Regions from separate parts of the Homo sapiens genome. Here region 2 is linked to region 1. Evidence: fine-mapped expression QTL. Tissue or cell type: nasal epithelium. Region 1 holds a variant in brackets; the other region holds the start of a gene. All regions are shown on one strand. Distances are from middle to middle.

Region 1 (8,265 bases):
GAGATTATTGGTTGGCAATACTTGAGAGAAATAAGAACAATCAATAAGGGACTAGAGGGGAAGACCCACATAAGGTGGCATTATTCTAGTAATAATTGCATAATCTGTAGTAGTAGGCTTCATAAAATAACAGCCATTTATTGAACACAACTATGAGCTGAGTCCTTAACATACAGCATCCCTCATCCTTGTAACAATCCATCAAGGAATCAGAAACACTATATCTTTTATAGATGAGGAAGAGGTTCAATAACTAGTCGAAGATGCTGAATGGTGGCATGGGGATTAAAACCCTCAATTTGGAGTCCAAATCCTGTGCTCTAAAAAATGAGCAAGATTTGAGTTCAGGTCTGTCTGACTACAAAACCTACATACTCCCACCATGTTCCTCTGCACACATCCCATGCTATTCAATTCAGCAACAGAGATAAGATGTTCTGTGTGACTATGCTGCCTATGTCCAGCTCTGACCACATAAAGATAACTCTAGTTACAAAAGTGGAAGTCATCCCAATGTGGGTGATTTAATTAATAATGCCACACAGTCCATTTCTTGGCAGGAGATTTTGGCACTGCTGCTCAGTGCTGAAAATACAGTATTCTTTTATCTTAGTGTATTGATATGGAGGGAGAAGGAGCTGTTACGTATCTGTGTGAGTCTGAAAAGTTAAAGCATGTTGAAGAGAGATAATATTTTACTTGGAAAAAAATAAGTTGGAAATAAGTGTTTCCCAACTTTGCATCCTGGGAACAGTGTTGCTAATTACCATTGAAGAGATTCACAATTAACGAACGTATTAAAATGAAATTATTTTGATTCTGAAACTTCATACTTTAACTCAAATATCACTGTTGTTCATAAATTCATTTGTGGAAATAAATGTTGCAACAAACACCACTACTGTGCTCAATATACCTTTGTGATTTTTATTTTTCCTTCCAAGTGAGTTGGTATTTTTAACATTTTCTACAGACAGAGGCAAGTTTGAAACATCCTTGTGTCAGTCTTGGAACAGTTCACCTGCTAAAAGTCTTTGTGGATATGACATGCACAGCTAAAACAGTACTTTGCCATTTTTCCTTTTTGTTTCATTTTTGAAAGTAGAAAGCCACTTTCTTTTTCCCCTCTCTTTCTCTCAGCTTCTTATGAAGATTCCCAGTATAAATGCAACAGCTGGAGTTACCTACAAATATACAAACTGAAAGAAAAGAAATATTATGGTTGGCTATTTGGGAGTCTCCTGAAATGAAAACATACCTGGACAGTTAGCATGATCAGAGAGCATCTAAATCAATCAAGGAAGAACAGAGGGAATTGAACTTGCCACAACTGCTGCTTTAAGAAAAAAAAAAAAAAAAAAAAAAAGGTACTTTGCTGGGAATGGTGGCTCGTGCCTGTAATCCCAGCTACTTGGGAGACTGGAGTGGGAGGATTGCTTGAGGCCAGGTGTTCAAGACCAGCCTGGGCAACACGGCAAGACTCAGTCTCATTTAAAACAAAAAAGAAGGTACTTTGATAGGTGCAACATATTTCTCATACCTTGTATCTATCCATTGGGTCTTCCTGTTGCAGCTGACTCTCTCGCATTGTCTGATATTCTTTCTCATATTTCTTCAGCTTCTTGGTTGGTACCTGCAGGGATTTGAGGAAAACCATGTTAGACAAGGACACCATTTATGAAAAAAAATTCAGGTGTGTTTGCTAGTTAAATTTCTGGCATTCTAAGGGAACATGCTCAACTCAAAGTTAGGAGAAAAATAGAGATTCCAGAGTAGAGGTTGGCAAACTTTTCCTGTAAAGGTCCAGACAGTATATATTTTAGGCCTTGTGGGCCATATAGTCTAAGTTGCAAAGATTCAACTCTGTCATTATTATACAAAACCTGCCATGGGTGATACCTAAACAAATGAGCCTGGCTGTGTTCCAAGAAAACTTAATTTACAGAAACAGGCTACAGTTTGTCCACCTCTGTTATAAATAATATTGCTGATGTCACAACCTTCTCTTGTTAATGTATTTAATAGTGCTATTAATTTTAACTTTCTTAAATATAATTCACTCATATCCTTCTATTATGTTGAAAATGAAAATTATTATTTTATATAAGTAAAAAATTGAGCTACAAGAAATATTCTAAAATGGCCTGGGCGTGGTGGCTCATGCCTGTAATCCCAGCACTTTGGGAGGCTGAGGTGGGCGGATCACTTGAGGTCAGGAGTTCGAGACCAGCCTGGCCAACATGGTGAAACCCGGTCTCTACTAAAATTACAAAAATTAGCGGGGCATGGTGGTGGGCATCTGTAATCCCAGCTACTCTGGAGGCTGAGGCATGAGCCTGGCTTGAACCTGGGAAGCTGAGGTTGCGGTGAACCAAGATTGTACCACTGCACTCCAGCCTGGGTGATAGAGCGAGACTCAGTCTCAAAAAAAAAAAAAAAGAAGAGAAGAGAAAAATATTCTAAAATGGAGTTAGTACACTGAAAACAAAGGAGGTTTTAGTGTTTGACAATGAAAACTCAAATATAGAATCATTATGCTGTATGAGATAATAGAAAGTCATCTAAACAACCCATTTATTTCTTGCTAAAATTATGTCATCCACAAAAGACAGTAGTTTACTATTTTCTGAAAAAAGACTAGATTCCTATGGACTCTTAGAATTTTAAAAATAAACAAATAAGCACAGCGTAGTATAAAAGCCCTCAGTAAACAGATATTTAACCTCTCTTAGGGGACAGTGGTGCACATCTATAGTCCCAGCTACTTGGAGGTTGAGACAGAAGAATTGCTTGAGCGCACAAGTTCCAGGCTGCAGTGCACTATGACGGCCACTTACTCCAGCCTGGGCAACAGAATGAGACCCTGTCTTTTAAAACAAACAAACAAAAAAACTCTCTTAGCCTCAGTTTCTTCATCTATAAAATAGCAGGTAAACAAAATTTCTACCTCATAATGGTGTCAGGAGAATTAAATGAGTTAACAGAGAGGTATCTAAAACAATGCCTGGTTTATGGACATTTTTAAAATTTTTTTTAAAATAAGTATTCAATCAAAATTAACGTATTAGAACTTATTCTGTTCCATAATACATATTAAATCTACTTTTAGCCTTTCTTTGGACAATCAAAGTTATAGAATTCCCTTACTTATATTATTTTATTTTAACTTTTGTAGAGATGGGGTCTGGCTATGTTGCCTAGGCTGGTCTCAAACTCCTGGGCTGAAGCGATCCTCCTTCCTCAGCCTCCCAAAGCATTGGGATTACAGGCCTGAGCCACTGTGCCTAGCCTATGATTCCTTTACACAGCAACACCTTTCCTTAATGTTTTTGTTTGGTTTAAGATTACAAACGTGCTATGTTGCAAACTTCTTGCGTACTCTGAGAAGGCAAGGATGATGTGTTGCCCTCAGTATCTGCCATAATACCTAGCAGTATTTGGCTCATACTAGGCCCTCAACAGATTGTTCCTTGTTGAGTTTAAAATATGGTATTTAGAAAACATATACATATGAGTGAGAGAGCAAAAGAGAATGGAAAGCATCTAGCATGAATATAAAATTATCTCACAATTTCCTTATTTTCATTAAAATGAGGACAGTACTAATTCTCTGGCATCTGGCCAGATAATTTGTTACATAAAAAACAAAGACTCCAGGTGTCATTCCCCATCTTATTCTAATTACTTTGTTCTTCTTATCCAGGAACACTATGAAGTACTAGAATTATCTGCTTCTCACCACAATTGGGAAGTTTCACAAACTCAGTCCAAACCTGATAGATGATAGAAACCAGTCAACAACCACATTATGAGAATATTCATCTGGCTGATGGGGGAATGTCTCCCCAGCCAAACAAGGAGTGAGGACATTTTCCAGGGTGTAACTGAATTGCAAAGCCACTGCTGAATATTGTTATGAGAAACACGAATCCTTTATTACTCCATCTCCAGAGACCTCTAACAAGTATACTGTGACCAACTAGAGTGCAATAGAAAGGAAAGCACCACCTGCCAACTGTGTAGCCTCACAGATCATTAGATAAACAAGGGAAATATACACAATCATGTGTTAACAAAACGACAACATTATTTTTCTTGGCTTTGATAGCAGTCTCAATTTCTTTTATTTTCTCTATATACATTAATCATACACTGAGAAAACCAAAAATAGACTCTGAAGATGAAGTTGCAAATCACTAGCACTAAAATAGCCCTGGAGCTATAGAAAAAGGGGAAGCTTCAGGGTTTTAAGCAGTAACAAGGTGTCTCCAATGTTTCCCTAGGAGCAGAAACAAGGGCCAAGGGGAGCAGCTAAAGGTATTGTGAGGAGAGAGCCTACTCCAGGAGCCATTTTCCCACCAGATCGGAAGTATTTCAGTATTTTTACAGCAGGAATACCATACCACTGGACACCAGGCTGAGAATTAGTTCCATGTGGAAGTATTTTCTACATGGTTCTAAAATGGATCCACTCACCAGTGACTGAATTACATACTGGAAGCTTGTGCCTAGAGAATTCTGAAACCATATTTTTAAACTTCAAACTATTATCAATTTTTTTTTACATGTAAGAGAAAAAAATGTCCTTTTAAAGGGATATTTTTACATGTCCTTTTAAAAGTCACTTTTGCTACTTATATTAAGAGGTTCATTTCAAAGTGAAACATTTTTTTAAAAAAGGCAATAACACTCTCAATAAGCTAATCCTTTCCCATCTGGCTGAGATTCTAGGATATTTGGCTTCATCTTGTTCAGGGAAACAGAGCAGGTTCCCAGAACAATATGTTGCTAGGAAACCTTCCAAGCTTATTTATCTTGTGCTGTGGGGTGATACTGAGCATCCACCTGTGTGATTGGCACAATGTGAAAGAGGGGAAAAG[A/G]GTGGAGGAGGAAGAGACAGGAGAGCTGATATGAAACTCTTGTTATTTATGAGGTAATCAAAGAAAATAGATTTTCAGTTTTTAAACCATCTTTCAGGACAAACTTGATTTTATTTTAGAGAATACTGAATGGGATTCAGACGCTTGAAATTTTTCTTTCTGGAGAAAGAAATTTAAAAACCTCTTAGGTAATTAACATTTATTGTTCCCCTTTCAGGGGGACCGTCCCCACGGATGATCAAAGGTCAGTTCCTGGTCAACATAAGTAAACAAGTTTGTTTAAGATAAATTCCCCTACACTGCCTTGTACCTACTCCTTGCCCAATGCCTCAGGGTTACAGAACAGCTGCCTTCAGCTATTCTCCCCTGGGGCTCTGCAGAACCTTCTGACCTTTCAGAAGGTTTGCGTCCTTTCCCTATAGTTTTTCCCCACCGCTCTGACCGATCTCCCACAGTGTCTGCTGATACTTTCTATTACGTTTCATCGTATTCCACAGTGATTTCACAGACCCTCTAAAATGATTTCATAACCAGCAGTTTGAAGGACACTGCACAAAATGAAATGGGCTTTTTCATCTATTCCCCTGATGATAATACTCAGAGCGTTATAATTCTAAATCACTGGAGAAGCTTTATTAACTCTACTTATCATCAATACCCTCACCTGTCATTACAGATGAGAGTGGGTCCTTGTCAGCTGTTATCAGGAAATACAAAGAATACAGCTTAATGAATTTAAGGCAAAGGGGAGTGGTTAGGGGAATGGCGAGGGAGTGTTAAACAGTGACCTTCAATAACAGTAAAAGACAGAGCACAATAATTACTCATTTGCCTTACTCTTTCTCAATATTAGCCATGCTGGCCTCAGACGGAGATATGGGAGGGGAAGACTGAAAAGAATACACCCAACTTTCTTCATTCTCCATGTTTTCTCTCTTCTTCTCATTTGAGGTGTTTATTTCATATTTGTATATATGACTCTTTCAGACTGAATATATATTAATCATGTTGTATAACAATAATTATCGGAAGAATTTGCCTTAATAATGTTCATCTCACTAATCATATCAACCAGTGATATCACCCTATTTTGTATTCTTACTTTCATATCTTATTTTGAATACTTACTAATATTTGAATTTCACATGCATTAGTTCTTTTTTTTTTTTTTTTTGCATGCCACCCATGCCTAGCTAATTTTTGTATTTTATTTGAGATGGAGTTTCCCCATGTTGGCCAGGCTGCTCTTGAACTCCTAACCTCAAGTGATCTGCCCTCCTCAGCCTCCCAAAGTGAGTTATTTCTAATAAAACTTATTTTGGCCAGGTGTGGTGGCTCATGCCTATAATCCCAGCCCTGTGGGAAGTCAAGGTGGGTGGATCACTTGAGTTCAGGAGTTCAAGACCAGCCTGGACAAAATGGTGAAAACCTGTGTTTACAAAACATACAAAAATTAGCTGAGCATCGTGGCACATGCCTGTAGACCCAGCTACTTGGGAGGCTGAGGTGGGAGGATCACCTGAGCCTGGGAGGCTGGGTTGCAATGAGGTAAAATCATGCCACTGCACTCCAGCCTAGGTGACAGAGTGAGACCCTGTCTCAAAATAAAACAAACAAATAAAAACATATTTATTTGCTTACATATAAGATTTGGTTAAGTTTCCTGATTATCAAACTCAATCATCATTTTTTTTTTTAAGAGACAGGGTCTTGTTCTGTTGCTCAGGCTGGAGTGCAGTGGCGCAATCACAGCACACTGCAGCCCCAAATTCCTGGACTCAGGTGATCCTCCCACCTTAGCTTCCTGAGTAGCTGGGACTATAGGGGCACACCACCATGCCTAGCTTTTTTTTTTTTTTTTTTTTTTTTTGGTAGAGCCAGGGTCTCACTATGTTGCCCAGGCTGGTCTCAAAATCCAAGGCTCAAGCAATCTTCCCACCTCAGCCTCCCAAAGTGCTGGGATTACAGGTGTGAGCCACCAGGCCTGGCCCAAACAAGATCTTTGTACATTTAGGAGTTCAAGGGCTTTGTTTATTTAGGAGTTCAAGGGCTTTGTATATTTAGGAGTGCTTTTCAACACCGCAGATCTTAAACTTCGGATCATAATGAACAGAATAATAGAACTCTTAAATAACAAATTTGAAACTCACTGTAGTAACTTGAAAAGAACTTACACACAGAAAAGAGAAATAACAGAATACATACGTAAAGATTTTTCAAGTTGATCTATGCTCTGTAATATATATGGCATGATCTTTGGCATATTCTGACTTTATGAAATAGTATATTAATTTTGTGAAAAGTTGGTTTTGCATTTTAGTAGAGAAAAGACCCTGGGCACTACCAGTGTTTCTCAAGGTAAGATATTATTGGCATTTTGGGTGGAATAATTTTTGGTGTAGACTCCGCTCTCCATTTCTGAGCCCATGGCATCCCTGGGCCCATTTATGATTTCACCTATTAAATGTCAGTAGCGGCTGCCTGTCACTGTGACAAACAGGATGCCTACAAACCTTTCTAAACCAGGTGTGGATGTTGGGGGCTGGTAGGTTTGAGGGGTACATGCTTGAGAAGATGTGGGATTCATACTAAAAGCCTCTGAGCTAAACTATCAATAAAGACAAGAAGAGAGGCCTGGACCAGTGTGCAAGGTTTTTAGCACTGCATTGATGTATTCAGATGTCCACTTCCCTCTGCTTTGTTATTGGTTAGCAGTAATTGCCACTAAGTATGTAATTCCTTCAAGTCAAAAAATTTCCTAACAGTTTTAAGCCTATTAATTTAGAAAAATCTATATTTAATCCTGCCAGCAACTCCATGAGGGAAGTATTATTTGGATTTTACAAATAAGTTGAGGATAGGTAACTTGCCCAAGATCATACAGAAATGAAATCCAGTTGGCCTCCAGAGCCTGCCCTCTTTAACCACTTTGCTCTACTGCCTGGGACCAGATGATTAAAGTAAAGCTGCTCAAGAAGCTGACAGTCTAGACGTAGTGCCAAATATGTGTCTAGTTATCATCTAGTTTCATAAGCGCAATAACAGATATTTATAAAAGGTACAAAGATGATCAAGAAGAAATTTGTGGGACAGAGGGTTGGAGAGGGAGAAGCACCTCAGTGAGGAGGATTTTCATGATGACTGGTTTATGCAAGCTTCCTTGCCCAGTTAAAACACAGAGCATTTCTCCTGTGCTCAGTTTTAACATTGGGCCAGTCACTTGTAAGAGCTATCATTCAGGGTTTGATGAATCTGCTTCTGTAATTCAGAAATGAAAGATACAAAAATATTAATTTATGGATGCAAATACTGGTAAAGTACATCACTGTGTTTTTCTTTTTTAAAGGCTGATATGACCCAAGTTAACATTTTCAGAAGTGAAGAT
Region 2 (8,000 bases), 800 kb after region 1:
CAATGCTATCCCTCCCCCCTCCCCCCTCCCCACCACAGTCCCCAGAGTGTGATATTCCCCTTCCTGTGTCCATGTGATCTCATTGTTCAATTCCCAGCATGGCACATGTATACATATGTAACTAACCTGCACAATGTGCACATGTACCCTAAAACTTAAAGTATAATTAAAAAAAAAAAAAAAAAAAAAAAAAACAGAAAGAGAAAAAAAAAAAAAAAGAAATACCAGCACCTGGAATAGCCTTGGGCTGCTGGTCATCCTCAGACTCAACGGCTGACCCATTTATATAAGTCAAGAGTTATAAAAATATAGAACTCATTAAAATTAAGACATAAGCAAGCTCTGTGCCTGGGAATCCCATAGGCTTACAGCAACAACTTCATTCTCCAAACCCCCTCTAACCAGTCATAATGATCCATACCCCACTTGAAGACAATGGTAGGTTGGAATGCAGGCCCACTTCTACACCTTCAATATAGGAAATTTTTGCTACTTAGCCACTACTCTCTTCAAAGTCAATCTCTTGAAGCCTAGCTATCTCCCACACATATTTTTACTTGGCACAACAGAATTCCTTCTTTTGATTACTCCAAAAGCATGGATAAAAGGACTTTCTGCTTCAATGCTGTATCATCTGAGAGTTCAAATAAATATACAATGGCTGAGCAAATTCAAGTTTGGGTTAAGGCAAAGAAAAAAATTCAAGTTTTTTAAAAGTCACAAATTTAGAACTGGAGAGCTGATCACATGAAAACTCCTGTTTCACATGCCTAATAAAATTCTTTCATTCAAAGGAAAAAAAAATCATAACTACCAGCGTAAAAAGAAAACATCTAAATCATGAAACAATTATCAAAGAAACAAAAATTCTCAGAACATCGCAACTGTAATATATAGAAATTCCCATCAAATAACTCAGGTGAAAAAAAAAAAAAATGGGACAAGCACCGTTGGCTCAGGCCTGTAATCCCAGCACTTCGAGAGGCTGAGGCGCAAGGACTGCCTGAGGCCAGGAGTTGGAGACTAGCCTGAGCAACATGGTGAGACCCTTGACTCTACAAAAATAAAACAAAAAATTAGCCAGGTTTGGTGGCATGTGCCTGTGGTCCCAGCTACTCAGGAGGCTGAGGTGGGAGGATCTCTTGAGACCAGAACTTCGTGGCTGCAGTGAGCTAGGACTGAGCCACTGCACTCCAGCCTGGGCGCCAGAGCGAGACCTTGTCTCTTTAAAAGAAACAAACAAACTTCATCTATTTACAGTCACACTTTTTTAGGTTGGTTTGTATATTCACCATATGCCCCAATAGTACTGAGACTTACTAACTTGTTTCCAGCTTTCTAGAGGACAATGTAGGTTATATAATATGTTCACATATAAGCTCTACCCTATTTCATCTACTTCTCCCCATATGACTTACTAGTACACATCAGAGGCCGGGCGCTGTGGCTAACGCCTGTAATCCCAGCACTTTGGGAGGCTGAGGCGGGCAGATCACCTGAGGTCAGCAGTTCCACCAGCCTGACCAACATGGAGAAACCCAGTCTGTACTAAAAATACAAAATTAGCCAGGCGTGGCGGCGCATGCCTGTAGTCCCAGCTACACAAAAAGCTGAGGCAGGAGAATCGCTTGAACCCGGGAGGCGGAGGTTGTGGTGAGCCGAGATCGCGCTGTTGCACTCCAGCCTGGGCATCAAGAGCGAAACTTCGTCTCAAAAATAATAATAATAATAATAATAATAATAATAATAATACACATCAGAGCAAATGTAGGCTACATAATATGTTAAAATATAAACTCTGCCCTGCTTTATCTACTTCTCTCCAAATGAATAATACATAATATCAGCGCATTTATTGAACTGATTTAGTATAGACACCAGTCTAACTCAAAGTCTAGAGCTAACCCCTCAGGCAGGTGTACATTTAATACAATTTGATGATAATGTATACATAAAGTTCAACTAGTCTTTCTCCTTAGAAATCTCATTGTCAATTTCATAAGGGACGCTCTACTGAGAAAATGAATCACAGGCCAGTTTTCTAGTACTAGGAGCTTGTGAACCAGTATTTTCCATGAACAAAATCCACTTCCAATGTGATCACAAAAAGCAAACTTCACATCCGTATCTTCTGACATCATAACTAATGGATATTCTACGGAAGATGCCAAATATAAACACTACTGTAAGAAAAGTCAGAAGGTTTTCATGAAACTGTGTTTTCAGAATTTTAACAAGCAACTACTTACCTCCCACTATGCACGAGGAAATTTAAATGTATTAAAAATCCCTAAACCCCTCCAGTGCCAAAAATAAAGGCCTTAAAATCATTTTCCAAACTGCGCTGAAATCTGTCAGGCAAGCAAAAGTTCTCCTTACCATTAGTGTAATAAGGCTGGCATTTCAGTTTACTTGCATGAAACCAATTTTGCAAGTGACCACCCAAGTTTTGGTACATATTCTAATATAACCCTATCTGAGAGATCCAAGGACCTGGACACACTGCCTAGTATCTGAAACCCGTCAGTTCAGCTCCCATGCACCCGGCCACCTCCCGCTAGCCGGTGGCCCCTTTCCACATGCTGACGCACTGCCCAGCCCTGTACCGTTGGCGACCAGTGCAAAGTACTAGCCCAGTCTCAGAAACTTTGACTCAGTTATCAGGACACTGAGCACTCACAAGGTGGGTGGGGGTTGGGGGGAGGTGTTTGTCATGGCTCAGGAGGTCAACTTTGAAGCGGGGCATTCCCTACAGGTAGGGATCTGCCCGGAACGCATCCCATCCCAAACTGCAAAACCACAAGCATCAACAGCAGGAGCCGAGCAAAGTGCTCGGCGGAGGAAGAGGAAGGGCGAGGGAGAGAAATGGTCGAGTACAGAAGCCTGCGTGTGGGTAAGAAAATACCCTAACCACTCGCCCACCGGACGCAGGGCGGCTGGGACTGCGAATCCAGCAGCAGCCACAGCGTAGCAGCGGGCGGCAGCCGCCGAGGCAGCAATGTCAGGAGGGCACAGCTGGAGGAGGCGGCCGCCAAAGCCACTACCCCACCCCCAGGTAAGGGCGCCGACCCCGCCCGCCCTATCCGCGAGGAGCGGCCACCTGGGAGAACTGCGGTGTCCGGGAGGCGGCCGACAGTCCTGAACCCGCCCCCTACCCTCCTTACCGCGGTCCTCCCGCATCCCAGTCCTCGGCTGGGGCCCCATCTCGACCCTCCCCAGGCTCAGCCCGACGCCAACACACCCAGGCAGCCTCGGCCCGCGGATCCGGGCCGCCGGGCCGCCCTCGTGTCCCTAGGAGGCCGTCCTCGCCTCACCTCTTCACGTCTCCGCGGGCGCTGCCGAGACAACAACTCCTTCAGGCGCCCGCGTTCCACCCTCCACCTCGCGCTCTGAAGCCGGGCCGGTCCCGTTCGCTCCGCCACCGCTGGAGCCCGAGGAGGGCGGAGGGAACTGAGAGGGGAGGGGAGAAGGGCCGCCTGGCAGGAAGAGGCGAGGGAGGGGGCGGGCCGAGAAGGAGGGGAGGAGGCGGTGGCGGCGGGTCGGAAGCGCGCTCGTCCAGGCCCCTCTGCGCGGCGTGCGCGCTCCTGATGTCGGAGGCGCCCACTCTGCCGGGCGGCGGCGGCGCACACGCGCGTGCACGTCGCTGCGTGGCCGCGGTTGCGCCGGGAGCGGAGGAGTGAGGTCCTGACAGAACCAGAGCTGTTAGAGCAGGGACGCGCGAAAGGCGGGAGTACGGGCGGCGCTGGAGAACCTCCGCGGCGGAGGGGCCTGGGGGTGGGACCGCGCCCGCGAGCCCGCCCTGACCGGGGTGCGTTCTACTGGCAGTTGCTGAGTTCGGAAGATTAACTCTGAATGTGGAGAGATTATTTTCTTGCTCGTAAACCTGGTTTACATATTTTCATTCTTAATGCTCAGTAATCTTAAGGAAAGTCACCTGAAAGAATACTTTTTCACCAAGTACTCTTCTGCGCCTGTTTGAAGGTGTCTGTGTGCTTGTGAAGCGCTCCCTTGTTAGTTCCTTCTGTGAGACTCGGGGGAGACTGAAGAGGGAAATCACCTGCGGGGAATGAACAGGAAAGCAATAAGTAAGCACCATTACGTATTATATGAAGAAAATGTGCCCTCATTTGCACCTTTTTATCCTTTGGGGTAAAAGATGTTGAGGTACAAACTAGGTAGAGGTAGAATAAACCAACGCTTTTTCGCTACGAAGATTGTACTGATCCTTGAATTGTGGACATCCTTCTTCTAGATCCTGCAACCAGAAATGACCTGTAAATTTTCCGAATCTCCTTAGCACTTTGTTCTGTAGTTTTGTGGCACCTAACATGTCAGGCTTATCCAGGTTGCCCTGTGCAGCATTTTATCCCACTAGACAACCGCTGTGAACCTGTATCATTCATTTGTATCTTACACTGTGCACCCTGCCTAACTCATAGGAAGCACTCAATGAATGTGATTGCATGGATAAGTGAATATAGTGTCCAGTGATTGCAGCCATAGAATGACTTTAGTTTAAATATCTCCCTTCTATCCCACTTCAATTCCCCTGCCCTCATTTTCCCACCCATATTTAAAAGCTACTCTGAGAAACGTGACATTTGTCCAAAGGGCCCTCCCTGACAAATTCCTTCCCCCCACACCCCCGCTTTTCCTGATGTTAATGTCTATAGATGCTGAGACATATCAAGAGTGTTGTAACTATTTTTTTGTTTCCCCTACCTTCTGGGCTGCTTCCCTTATTAACTTCTGTATCTCAGGAGCCTACCTAGCCCTGGGCCTGACAATAAATGCTGAAAGTTTTTATTATATTTAATAAAGTTAGGGTTAGAATAACATAAATCATCTGTTGATTTCCTGAGATGTACAGGAACTATTAATAAATCTGCCAACCAGTAAGTACTAAGCCTCTACTAAATAAAGTACTAGTAAATTTACACTGCGCGCCATGAGGAAATCAACAGTTGACAAAGCCGCAGTTTCTGCCTTCAGGTATCTTCTAACTGGAGTGAAGCTTTTTGACAAAAAAGGACAATGGATGTGGTAATTATGGGCATTCAATAGGTAACTTAGCTAAAAAAGAATTTAAAAAAAAAATGGCAAGTCCAAAACAAGTTTAGTGTTCCCCAAATTCAGTTCCATATGTCTTTGAAAGCAATAGTGGACACCACTGGCCACTGCGAGTTAATTCTTCTATTTAAGTGGAGCATGCTATCTTCATGTGCCAACTTGCTATAAGGAAAAGAAAAATCCTGTCCCATGGCCACATGTAACACCTCTCATCAACAGGGGTCATTCTTTAAAACTGAACTTTTCCTCACAGTACAACATAGATAAGAGACAAGTCATGAGAGAACCTAGATAAAAGACAATTAAGGTGATCTGATGCAAACTCATCCTTACCACCAGAAAAACAATTCTAAGCACATGCCAAAAAATTATTAACAGATCTTCAGGCTTTTAGTCGAGAAACTAAAAGGAATAAAAAATTAATAACAAAGCATTCTTCATGTGGTATGTGCTGCTCACTTCTCTTTCCACTGTGGCTTCATTTGCATTAAGCGTATCCTAGCAGCCCTGGTCCATGAAAGGACTGAAACTCTCACTTTGAGAGATGGTGTTATAAAATACTCCAGCATGATTCATAACATGACAAACTGGTGCCCCAGGTACAAATCAAACCCACAAACATGTTTTGTTTGGCATACATGGTGCTTAAAAAAACACATATCCAAAGTTAAAAACCAGAAGATTATACATGCATTTTGGGCTTCTCTTTAAAAAGTGGAAGATTTGGTAACAGTGAGCTTACATTATTACATGATAACGATCAGCTGCAGGACATGCATTCTCTCTTTTGCCAAAGTCTCTACATTCTCTATTGTATCTTACAGTGTTGTTTCTCTCATTTATGTCTGCAACTCCTAGTTTAAAATGTAATATCAAAAATTGGAAACAGACCAGGTGCAGTGGTTCATGCCTGTAATCCCAGCACTTTGAGAGGCCAAGGCAGAATTGCTTGAGCCCAGAAGTTCAAGATTAGCCTGGGCAACATAACAATACCCTGTCTCCACAAAAAAGAAAAAAAAAATTAGAAACAAGTTAAACATTGAACAATAATGTAAGAGTTTAAACTGGTATCTAATGGTACAGAATATCATATTGATTTTATAGTGAGCATTATATTGATTGATTCCCCAGAATATATTTCCACCCCTCTGCAATTGCAAGACAGCCAAGGATCTGATTAGGCCCATCTCCCGCTCCAGGTGTGGACAGTGATTGTGATAATCAGCCTAATCCCATTCTCACTTGACCTGTCAGTATTCACTGATAGGCACTGACATGAGTCTAAATTGGTGCCAGTCACATGGAAGGCCATATCTTGTGTTTGTTGGGAAATGAAAAGTGCTCTTTTTCTTACTCTGGCTAGTGTGATGGGTAGATGTGAGTCCAATAGTTACTGCAGCCACTTTGCTACCATGAGGAAGCCAGCCTGAGGATGAAGCTGACACATGATGGAAGCACTCAAACCCAGCTTGAAGCCTACCCCTTCCTCTGAGACAATAAATTTTCACAGCTTTTTTTTTTTTTTTTAAACAGTCTCACTCTGTTGCCCAGACTGGAGTGCAGTGGCGCAATCTCGGTTCACTACAACCCCTGCCTCCCGGGTTCAAGCGATTGTCCTGTCTCAGCCTCCTGAGAAGCTGGGATTACAGGTGCCCACCACCACGCCCAGCTAATTTTTGTATTTTTAGTAGAGATGGGGTTTCACCATATTGGCCGAGCTGGTCTCAAACTCCTGACCTCAGGTGATCCACCCGCCTCGGCCTCCCAAAGTGCTAGGATTACAGGCGTGAACCACCGTGCCCGGCCTGATTTTGACAGCTTTTTAAGAAGGTTCGAGTTTGGCTTTGTATTTCTTACAGATAAAGCTAAATCTTTCCATGCATACTATGGAACAAATAACTTTAGTTGCATTATATGACTCTTCCAAGGATACGTTTCCAATGATAGAAAGGTAACAAGCTGTCTGGCAAGATTTTACAGGGTCTTGAAAGGAATTTGACCACACCAAAAAATCCTTCCCTGACTGGGCTACCTGATGCCTGAAAGCCCATCGTTACACTTTTTTTTTTTTTCACTTTGACTTAAATCCTGTGCCCTATTTAAATCAACTTTGCCCAAGAAGAGCACTTCATGACTCGAATCACTAATCTTATATAAATGAGTTTATCACATGATTTTTTAGTCTTTTTTTTTTTTACTAACAGGAAGATTTGGAAAAGAGGCACTGGCTACTGGAGGAAGGGAGAAATCACCGAGAGAGCGAAAGATGTAACAGGTAAAACTGGAGATACAGAAGAAAACCTTTTTTATTTCACGGTTTTATGTAGGGCTGAAATTCAGAGTAATCTGGACAAGTCATAATGAGCTTATATGATAAACCAAACCTGTGTTGCAATCGCCCATTTAAGACTAAGAACACAATAAAATATGTATATAGGGAGCAGAAAATTTCCTCAGCAGTAGAAGAGGCAGGCAGAGATCTAAATGCCTGTTTTATTTTATTTTTTTGAGACAGAGTTTCACTCTTGCTGCCCAGGCTGGAGTGCAGTGGCGCAATCTCGGCTGACTGCAACCTCCGCCTCCCGGGTTCAAGCAATTCCCCTGCCTTAGCCTCCGGAGTAGCTGGGATTACAGGCACGCACCACCATGCCCAGCTAATTTTTGTATTTTTTTAGTAGAGACAGCGTTTCGCCACATTGGCCAGTCTGGTCTCGAACTCCTGACCTCAGGTGATCCACCCGCCTCAGCCTCCCAAAGTGCTGGGAGGGATTAAAGGCATGAGCCACTGCGCCTGGCCCTAAATGTCTCTTGAGGAAGAATAGCTAGCCTACTACTTTTATTTCTTTTATTTTTTATATTTTTTATTTTTTGAGACAGGGTCTCACTCTGTCACCCAGGCTGGAGTGCAGTGGTGCGATCTTGGCTCACTG

The links. PIP is the estimated chance that this variant, and not a neighbour inherited with it, causes the effect.
Region 2: RABGAP1L starts here. The variant in region 1 is fine-mapped to the expression of RABGAP1L in nasal epithelium (TOPMed, PIP 0.93).

Annotation. Positions count from the first base shown.
Region 1 is chr1:174,950,825-174,959,089 of GRCh38, reverse strand. RABGAP1L (RAB GTPase activating protein 1 like) reads right to left here. Exons shown (of 26, transcript NM_001366446.1): 20 at 1,541-1,633. It overlaps RABGAP1L-AS1 (RABGAP1L antisense RNA 1), which reads left to right and starts at 4,829. Exons shown (of 6, transcript NR_121196.1): 1 at 4,829-4,933. The variant A/G (reference allele first, on the strand shown) is at 4,881.
Region 2 is chr1:174,154,972-174,162,971 of GRCh38, reverse strand. RABGAP1L (RAB GTPase activating protein 1 like) reads right to left here and starts at 3,452. Exons shown (of 26, transcript NM_001366446.1): 1 at 3,315-3,452. RABGAP1L-DT (RABGAP1L divergent transcript) reads left to right here and starts at 3,685. Exons shown (of 4, transcript NR_121197.1): 1 at 3,685-3,808; 2 at 3,982-4,085; 3 at 7,275-7,345. RefSeq lists silencers at 3,047-3,226, 3,347-3,746.